Linked DNA regions of Homo sapiens: regions 1 and 3 are each linked to region 2. Evidence: fine-mapped expression QTL. A gene starts in region 2. Each other region holds a variant in brackets. All regions are shown on one strand. Distances are from middle to middle.

The links. PIP is the estimated chance that this variant, and not a neighbour inherited with it, causes the effect. A credible set is the group of variants that fine-mapping cannot tell apart.
Region 1: its variant is the best candidate, but not a certain one, in a credible set for the expression of SPECC1 in whole blood (TOPMed, PIP 0.66).
Region 3: its variant is the best candidate, but not a certain one, in a credible set for the expression of SPECC1 in tibial artery (GTEx, PIP 0.50).

What each region holds. Positions count from the first base shown.
Region 1 is chr17:19,983,687-19,986,443 of GRCh38, reverse strand. No RefSeq gene overlaps it. Among named protein-coding and RNA genes, the nearest start is that of AKAP10, 7.2 kb to the right of the region's middle. The variant C/T (reference allele first, on the strand shown) is at 1,256.
Region 2 is chr17:20,008,294-20,011,050 of GRCh38, reverse strand. It overlaps SPECC1 (sperm antigen with calponin homology and coiled-coil domains 1), which reads right to left and starts at 1,692. Exons shown (of 15, transcript NM_001243439.2): 1 at 1,627-1,692. SPECC1-DT (SPECC1 divergent transcript) reads left to right here and starts at 1,791. Exons shown (of 1, transcript NR_186461.1): 1 at 1,791-2,757. RefSeq lists silencers at 1,021-1,200, 1,221-1,890 and an enhancer at 2,323-2,757.
Region 3 is chr17:20,090,279-20,093,035 of GRCh38, reverse strand. The region is part of intron 1 of SPECC1 (sperm antigen with calponin homology and coiled-coil domains 1); the gene reads right to left. Among named protein-coding and RNA genes, the nearest start is that of SPECC1, 82 kb to the right of the region's middle. The variant A/G (reference allele first, on the strand shown) is at 1,676.

The DNA of each region.
Region 1 (2,757 bases), 25 kb after region 2:
AGTCACAGGTATTTGCAGTAGGAAGCTGTCAGGTTAGAGTGCACGGAAATAGAAAGTATATTTTACACTTACAGCACATCTTCGTTTGATTAGCCACATTTAAAATACTGAATAGCAACGTGTGGCTATTTAGTATTCACTAAAATCTTGGACAGTGCAAGTCTAAAGAATCCTTGATCCGTCCGGCATGGTGGCTCACGCCTTTAATCCCAGCACTTTGGGAGGCCAAGGTGGAAGGATCACTTAAGGTCAGGAGTTCGAGACCAGCCTGGCCAACATGGTGAAACCTCGTCTCTACTAATAATACAAAAAAAATTAGCCGGGCATGGTGGTGCATGCCTGTAATCCCAGGTACTTGGGAGGCTGAGGCAGGAGAATAGCTTGAATCCAGGAGGCGCTGCAGTGAGCCGAGATCATGCCATGCCACTACTGCACTCCAGCCTGGGCAACAGAGTGAGACTGTCTCAAAAAAAAAAAAAAAATTGTTGGGCGTGGTGGCTCACGCCTGTAATCCCAGCACTTTGGGAGGCTGAGGGGGGTGGATCACCTGGGTTCTGGAGTTCGAGACCAGCCTGGCCAACATGGTGAAACCCCATCTCTACTAAAAATACAAAAATTAGCTGGGCGTGGTGGTGGGCACCTGAAATCTCAGCTACTCAGGAGGCTGAGGCAGGAGAATTTCTTGAACCCAGGAGGCAGAGGTTGCAGTGAGCCAAGATCGCGCCTCTGCACTCCATCCTGGGTGGCAGAGCAAGACTATGTCTCAAAAAAAAAAAAAAAAATACTTGATTGTCTGGACATTCTGCAGAACATCATATGGAGACACTATGTTGACGACATCATGCTGATTGTAAGCAAGAAATGGCAAGTGTTCCAGAAACACAGTCAAGACACATACATGCCAGAAGGTGAGATATAAACTCTACTAAGATTCAGTGGCCTGCCACACTGGTGACATTTTTAAACCTGCTAGATGTTTGTGTAGAAAAGGATTTAACCTTGCCCAAAGAGGGGTCTGGCCTTTGTCCCCAGCTACTGGACATAATCTCTTTAAACTCTTGAAATATCATTCCTGATAGAAGTATTTTTGTTTTGACTAGGGGCCTTGGGCCAGCCAGATAGCAACAATGTGATCTGGGTTGGGGGCTTTGGATCAGGTGGCATCAGTGTGACCTCCTGAGTGGCTAGAGACTAGAATCAACCACATGGGCAGACAACCCAGCTTACATGATGGAATTCCAATAAAGACTTTGGA[C/T]ACAAGGGCTTGGGTAAGCTTTCCTGGTTGGCAATGCTCTATACTGGGAAACCCATTCTGACTCCATAGGGAGAGGACAACTGGATATTCTCATTTGGTACCTCCCTGGGCTTTGCCCTATGCATTTTTCCCTTGTCTGATTATTATTATTATTATGAGATGGAATCTCGCTCTGTCACCCAGGCTGGAGTGCAGTGGAATGATCTCAACTCACTGCAACCTCTGCCTCCCCGGTTCAAGCGATTTTCCTGTCTCGGCCTCCCGAGTAGCTGGGACTACAGATGCATACCACCACACCCGGCTAATTTTTTTGTATTTTTAGTAGAGACGGGGTTTCACGTTAGCCAGGATGGTCTCGATCTCCTGACCTCATGTTCCGCCTGCCTCGGCCTCTCAAAGTGCTAGGAATACATGTGTGAGCCACCGCGCCCAGCCCCCTTGGCTGATTATTAAAGTGTATCCTTGAGCTGTAGTAAATTATAACCGTGAATATAACAGCTTTTAGTGAGTTTTGTGAGCACTTCTAGCAAATTATCAAACCTAAGGATAGCCTTGGGGACCCCTGAACTTGCAGTTGGTGTCAGAAATAAGGGTGCTCATGTGTGTACCATGCCCTCTAATTTTGTAGTTAATTAACTTTCACAACTTTATTATTACCGCTTACACTCAATGTTTATTCACATTTATCCACATACCACTTATTCTAGTGCCTTGCATCAAAGACTTTCTATCTCATGTACTTTATTCTGCTTGAAGTAAATCCTTTAGGATATTCTTTTTTTTTTTTAAACTTTGCACATACATACTTTTATTTTTTATTTATTTTTAATTTTGTTATTTTTGTGGGTACGTAGTAGATATATGTATTTATGGAGTACATGAGATGTTTTGATACAGGCATGCAATGTGAAATAAGCACATCATGGAGAATGGGGTATCCATCCTCTCAAGCAATTTATCCTTCAAGTTACAAACAATCCAATTACACTCTTTAAGTTATTTTAAAATGTACATTTAATTTTGTATTGACTAGAGTCACTCTGTTGTGCTATCAAATATAATTTTTTTTTTTTTTGAGACAGAGTCTCACTCAGTGGCCCAGACTGAAAGTGCAGTGGCACAAGCTCGGCTCACTTCAATCTCTGCCTCCCTGGTTCAAGCGAATCTCCTGCCTCAGCCTCCCACATAGCTGGGATTACAGGCACACACCACCATGCCCAGCTAATTTTTATATTTTTTTAGTAGAGACGGGTTTTCGCCATGTTGGCCAGGCTGGTCTTGAACTCCTGGCCTCAAATGATCTGACCACCTCAGCCTCCCAAAGTGCTAGGATTACAGGCATGAGCCACCACACCTGGCCAAAATAGAATATTCTTTAGTGAGGTCTGCTGGTGACAATTTTTTTCTTTTTTTTGAGACTGAGTCTCGCTGTTGTCAGCTTGGGCTGGAGTGCAATAGCACGATCTCAGCTCACTGCAACCTCCACCTCCCGGATTCCAGCA
Region 2 (2,757 bases):
ATTGATGTGAACAATCCAAAAGTGCATTTTAAATTAGCCCAGGGTTTTAGAGAAAGAAAATCTAGCAATGTGACCACCACTTATGTTAACAATTTTAAGACGAAAATCTACATGATCATATCAATGCATGCTACACAAAAGCATTTGGGCAAAAAACCCAACACCCACCCTTGACTTTTTAAACTCTTAGTAATTAGGCATAAACAGAAATGTACTTAATGTGATAGAATACACTCGGTGAAGATACAGAGGGAATGCTCCCTAAAACCAAGCCCAAGACAAAGATTCCTATTTAACCTCAATAGTCAACACTGCAGCGAGAGTAATCTATGGAAGACAAGGAAAAAAGTAAAAACATGAGAGACATCTGTTGTTTAACAGACAATAAGATCACCTACTTGGAAGAGGCAAACGAATCAAGCGAAAAACTATTAAAACTGAGACAGGCTTTAGTATGGAGGCTCAGCTTCAGCTGTAGTTTGGGCTACCAAATTCAACTCGCTTGCTTGGAGAGTTAATCCTGCAAAGCTAATTTCTGTTGAGGTATTAGGATTGACAAGCCTGTGCTCCTCCCTCCTCCCCCATCTTCAACACTGAAATAACACGGTGTTTGGAACTGGATAACAGAATCTTCCAAAAACAAAAATTGTCCTGAAGGGCTGACTTGTGCCCTTACTCAAAAAACACTTTATCTGCTGCCTGCAGCTCCTACAGTTGCTGGTGGATAAGCCTGCCAACCAGCTCGGCGTAATTCTTCCTGCAGAGGGCAAGGAAGAGCACTTTCACAGGAAAATTTTTTTCCGAACTGTATGCCGCTTATTACATAAACTTACGTGCTGGCAAATGGAGCTCCAGCAAAATAAGATATTCAGAGTCAAACTTCCTTAGGAAAAAAAAAAAAAAAAAGCAAGCACATAACACTAATTTCCTTGCATGGGCACTGGGGAAGGAGGTCGTTACTTCCGCACGCCCGCAGGTCCGCACCACCGGGAAACCCACGGGCACCGCGCGCTGCCCCCGGGCCTTCCAGGTGCACTGCGCCGCGGCGCCCCAGCTGACCCGGGATGCGCAGCCCTAGCCCTTCCCCTGTCACCCCGGCCAGGAAGGGGCGGGAGCGCGGCGGACGCCGAGGGCGAAGGGCTTCTCGGTCCTCTGCACCACGCAGCACCCCCAAGGCACAACAGGGAGGGTGCGGGAGGCTCCCGAGACCCAGGAGCCGGGGCCGGGCGTGCCCGCGCACCTGTCCCACTGCGGCGAGGGCTGGGGTCGCCTCCAGGGCCGCAGCTGTCGGGAGCCACCTGGCTCTCAGTCCCGGGTCCCTGCGACAACCCTCGGGCCCGGAGGGGAGGAGGCGGCCACCTGCCGCTGCCACCTGCGGCACCGGTCCCACCGCTCCGGGCCGGGCAGGACAGGCCAGGACGTCCCTCCTGGGCTGGGGACAGGACACGCGACGAGGGGACCGGGGCCCCCGCGGCGAAGACGCAGCACGCCTTCCCAGAAAGGCAGTCCCGTGCCCCCACGACGGACTGCCGGACCCCCGCGCTCGCCCGCCCATCCCTTCAGACCACGCGGCTGAGGCGCAAAGAGCCGGCCGGCGGGCGGGCTGGCGGCGCGGCTAGTACTCACCGGCCCCGCTGGCTCAGCGCCGCCGCAACCCCCAGCGGCCACGGCTCCGGGCGCTCACTGATGCTCAGGAGAGGGACCCGCGCTCCGCCGGCGCCTCCAGCCATCGCCGCCAGGGGGCGAGCGCGAGCCGCGCGGGGCTCGCTGGGAGATGTAGTACCCGGACCGCCGCCTGCGCCGTCCTCCTTCAGCCGGCGGCCGGGGGCCCCCTCTCTCCCAGCTCTCAGTGTCTCATCTCCCTATCTGCTCATCCTCTGGTCGCACATAATCGATGTTTGGGCGTCCCAAGCCAGATGTGGACCCCATTTCCGCACTCTACACTGGAGGTTTTCTAAGGGTGGTGCCCGGACCAGCAGCTTCAGCCTCATCTGGGAACTTGAGAAAATGCAGATTCTCCGTCCCACCCAGCCTATTCGGTTTTTCCTGCACTAAAACCATGAAGGTGGGGCCCAGCAGTCCACATTCTCGCAAGCCCGTCAAGTGATTCTGAGGCGCCCTCCAGTTTGAGAGCTATGCTCACGGCCTCACCTCCGCCCCGCAAGGAGCCCGGTCTTGCCTGTGGCGCTAGCCGCACACGGACACCTCATCCTGCGGGGCCCGCCCCCCCGCTGCACCCTCACCGCCCAACGCCTCCTCCGGGATGCAGCGGAGGCGCCTGGAAGTCGGCAAGGTCAACATCCCCCTCAGCATCTTCCCTACCCTCACGGCTCCTCCTCCAGGGGTGCCTCATGGCCAGGGGTTAGAAAGAGCCACTGTGTTTCTTGACATGGAAGTGGCCTAAGACCTTAATGAAAACTGCAGGAGTGGAATGACAGAACCTTTGGTCATACTTGAGGGCGTGAAGCTCAAATGAGGAGGAAGGAAAGGATCCAGGGAGAATAACCAACCCTGGCAAGTTGTGGCGCCCAGGTAGAGGGGCGAGCCTAGGCTAGCGGTTCTCGACCAGGGCCGGTGTTGCCCCTCCTCGCCGCCCCGCGTACATTTGGGGAGGTCTGGAGACATTTTTGGTTGTCATGATGCGGGAGTTGCTACTGTTGCCTAAGTGGGTAGACACGAGGGTGCTCCTCAACATCCTACCTGAAGGACAGGACTGCCCCACAAGGAAGAATGATCCGGCCCCAAATAAGAAACCCT
Region 3 (2,757 bases), 82 kb before region 2:
AGCAACTTGCCCAAATCTCAGAGTTTATCTTGGAGCCAAGATTCAGATCCAGTTTAAATTGGTTCCAAAACCTACACACCTAAACACCAGGGACGGATGGCCTCTCTGAATAATCTTTGCTCCCTGGAGAGCACCAAGGCTATAGATCAAATGCACCTGGTCCAAATTCAGCTCCACTGTTGACATTGTGAACTCAGCCATGCTTTCTGAACATGATTCTCTACATCTTCACCCAATAAGATGGAGTTATCAGTGCCAACTTCATAAAACTGTAAAGATGAAAGGAGAACAAGTCCATCAGGTGCCAGGCACACAGAAGGCTGTTGACAACTATGAGCCGCCCTCTCGACAAAAACTGTTGATGGTGTTCAACGGAGCGCTGCTCTGCCTTCTGACTCAGCAGCACACAGTGATGGGTCAATTAAATGTGTGTTCAGGGCAGGAGGCAGACAGACATATCAGATCCAAGGAACACACTCTTCTACACAGAGAAGACTATTTTCACTTGGAAATGTGAAAGAGAGAAAGAAGCGAGGGAAACACACCTGCAGGGAAGACACTTCACAGCAATTAAAATTGCCCAGGGCTTAACAAATCCTGGCTGCTGAAAGATAAACACAGGTGGGAATGCTAGCTGAGTAATCGTTTTCTTATGGATATGAATTAGCCATACAAAATAAACAGGCTCCAGCCAAGTACAAGACAGTGAAAAGAAGGTTTCTATTATTAATCTCATGATTTCCTAAAATCCTCATGAACACCACAAAGGATCACATCGATCAAGGAATTACAGTTAAATCTAGGACCCCACACCCATGGTGGGGTGGGGGATGTCGTTCCAGGGGTGTTTTCTTTAAATTTGTCAAACATTTTATTTTCTTACCAAGTTTCTCTCCTCTCCAGAATAGTGTAGGACTTAAACTGCAACTCTTAAATTTCACAGTGTAAAGTAGAAGAGAAAGGAGGGAGGGAGAAAAGGAGGAGAGAGGGAACCCCTATTTAAGGAATACAATTAGGCGCTGGGCAACAGTTAAAGTCAGAGTCCACACGTCTCCTGCTCCCTGAAAACACGCTGTTCCGCCACTAAATTGCTGCCTTCGGAGCCTGCGTTGGAGAGGTTATCTCGGGCCTCAGCTTCATTATCCTTTTAAGGCAAGAAATAGAAAGGCAACTGGGAAACCATTCTGGACAATCAGAAAATAATGACGAGTCTCCAGGAGTGGGAGAGGGCACTCAGGGCTCGGCTACAAGCACAATAAGCACTGGGAAGCGGAAGAGGCCAAACCATTCAAGTCTGAGAACCAACAAAATAAGAATGTGCACATAGCTCAATTGCCAGGGGACTCAGCAGGAAATAGAACGTAAGTGAACCACATGTTGAAAATACTGAGCTGGAGCTTTTTGGAACATGGGTCGAATTTGCTCCTGACCTCTTCTACAGTAGTAGTTCTAAGCCCAATGGGCACGTGGCAATGTGCAGAGGCATTTACGGTGTCACAACTTGGGGTGCTACTGGACAGAGCCCAGAGATGCTGCTAGACATCGGTAACCCAAAGGGGAGCCCTACAACAAGGAAGCATCTGGCCTACAATGTCAGCAGTGCCACGGTGGAGAGACTTCCAGAGGAAGAATGAGAGCCCTGGGACACTGGCTCCTAGACCAGCCGGCACATGAC[A/G]TATCTGCTTAGCCTCACCACCTAACATGGAAACATTAACACTGAAAATCTGGTTGGGGCGCAGCTGACGGAATCCCAGACTTCAGCAAATGGCCACAGGAAATGCTTCAAAGCTGATTATTTCCCACAGTCTTGAGATGAAAAATCATCCCAATAGCCTCAGATTCTTTCCCAGTAAATAAGGAAAAGAACAGATTTCCATACAGCATCAGAAGAAAAATTCCAAAGTAAAATTCATTGATCCCATCAGCAGAAGTCACTGGAAAAAAAGAAGTGATAAAAACAAAAACTAAATGGAAAAGAACATTTGTACATCGCTAACCACACCACCTCAAACCTGAAAACAAACTTTGATAGTGGAGTAAGAAACTATGGACTCCTGCCAGAAGGTGAAGACCCATAAAGAATAGGGTGTAATCTGGAGACCCATAAGGAATAGGGTATAATATGGAGACCCATAAGGAATAGGGTGTAATCTGGAATAAGAAACAGAGGCCGAGGCAAGTCCCAAATATGAAATGCAGACCCAAGAGAGAGGCTATAATCTGGCAGCTATATTGAGACCAAGAGCTCACAATCACTGGTCTGTGACGTCCTTCTGTCTCCAAAGCTGCCTCAAGCAACCAGCATCCCAAAGAGCTAAATGACCACTAATAAGTAGTTATTCCCTTACCTGTAACATGGCTTCCATCAAAGGATTAAAGTGAATGAGCCAAGGCAGTAGGAAAAGGAGATGGAAATAAAATAAGAGCCCTTTTTTTTTTTTTTTGGAATAGTGTAAAATGGTCTAGTGCAAAGTAAACAGAATAAAAACTACAGTATAGGAGGGAACCAGAGACTTTCATATCTATCTAGGCTGCAGCATCTTGAGCCATATTTATCAAGTCCTGGCTCCGGGCCTTTGCACATGCAACTGCCTCTGCCTGGGACGCCAGCTGGGGAACTGAGGTGAGCTGAGAAAGGAAGTGTTTACAAAGGTGTGGGCAGGGCTTGTAATGAAAGGGAGAAGCAAAACGGAAAGTGCAGCACCCCAGAGCTAGGAAACACCTCATACGCATCCTCTCCCTCCCTCCAACCTGACA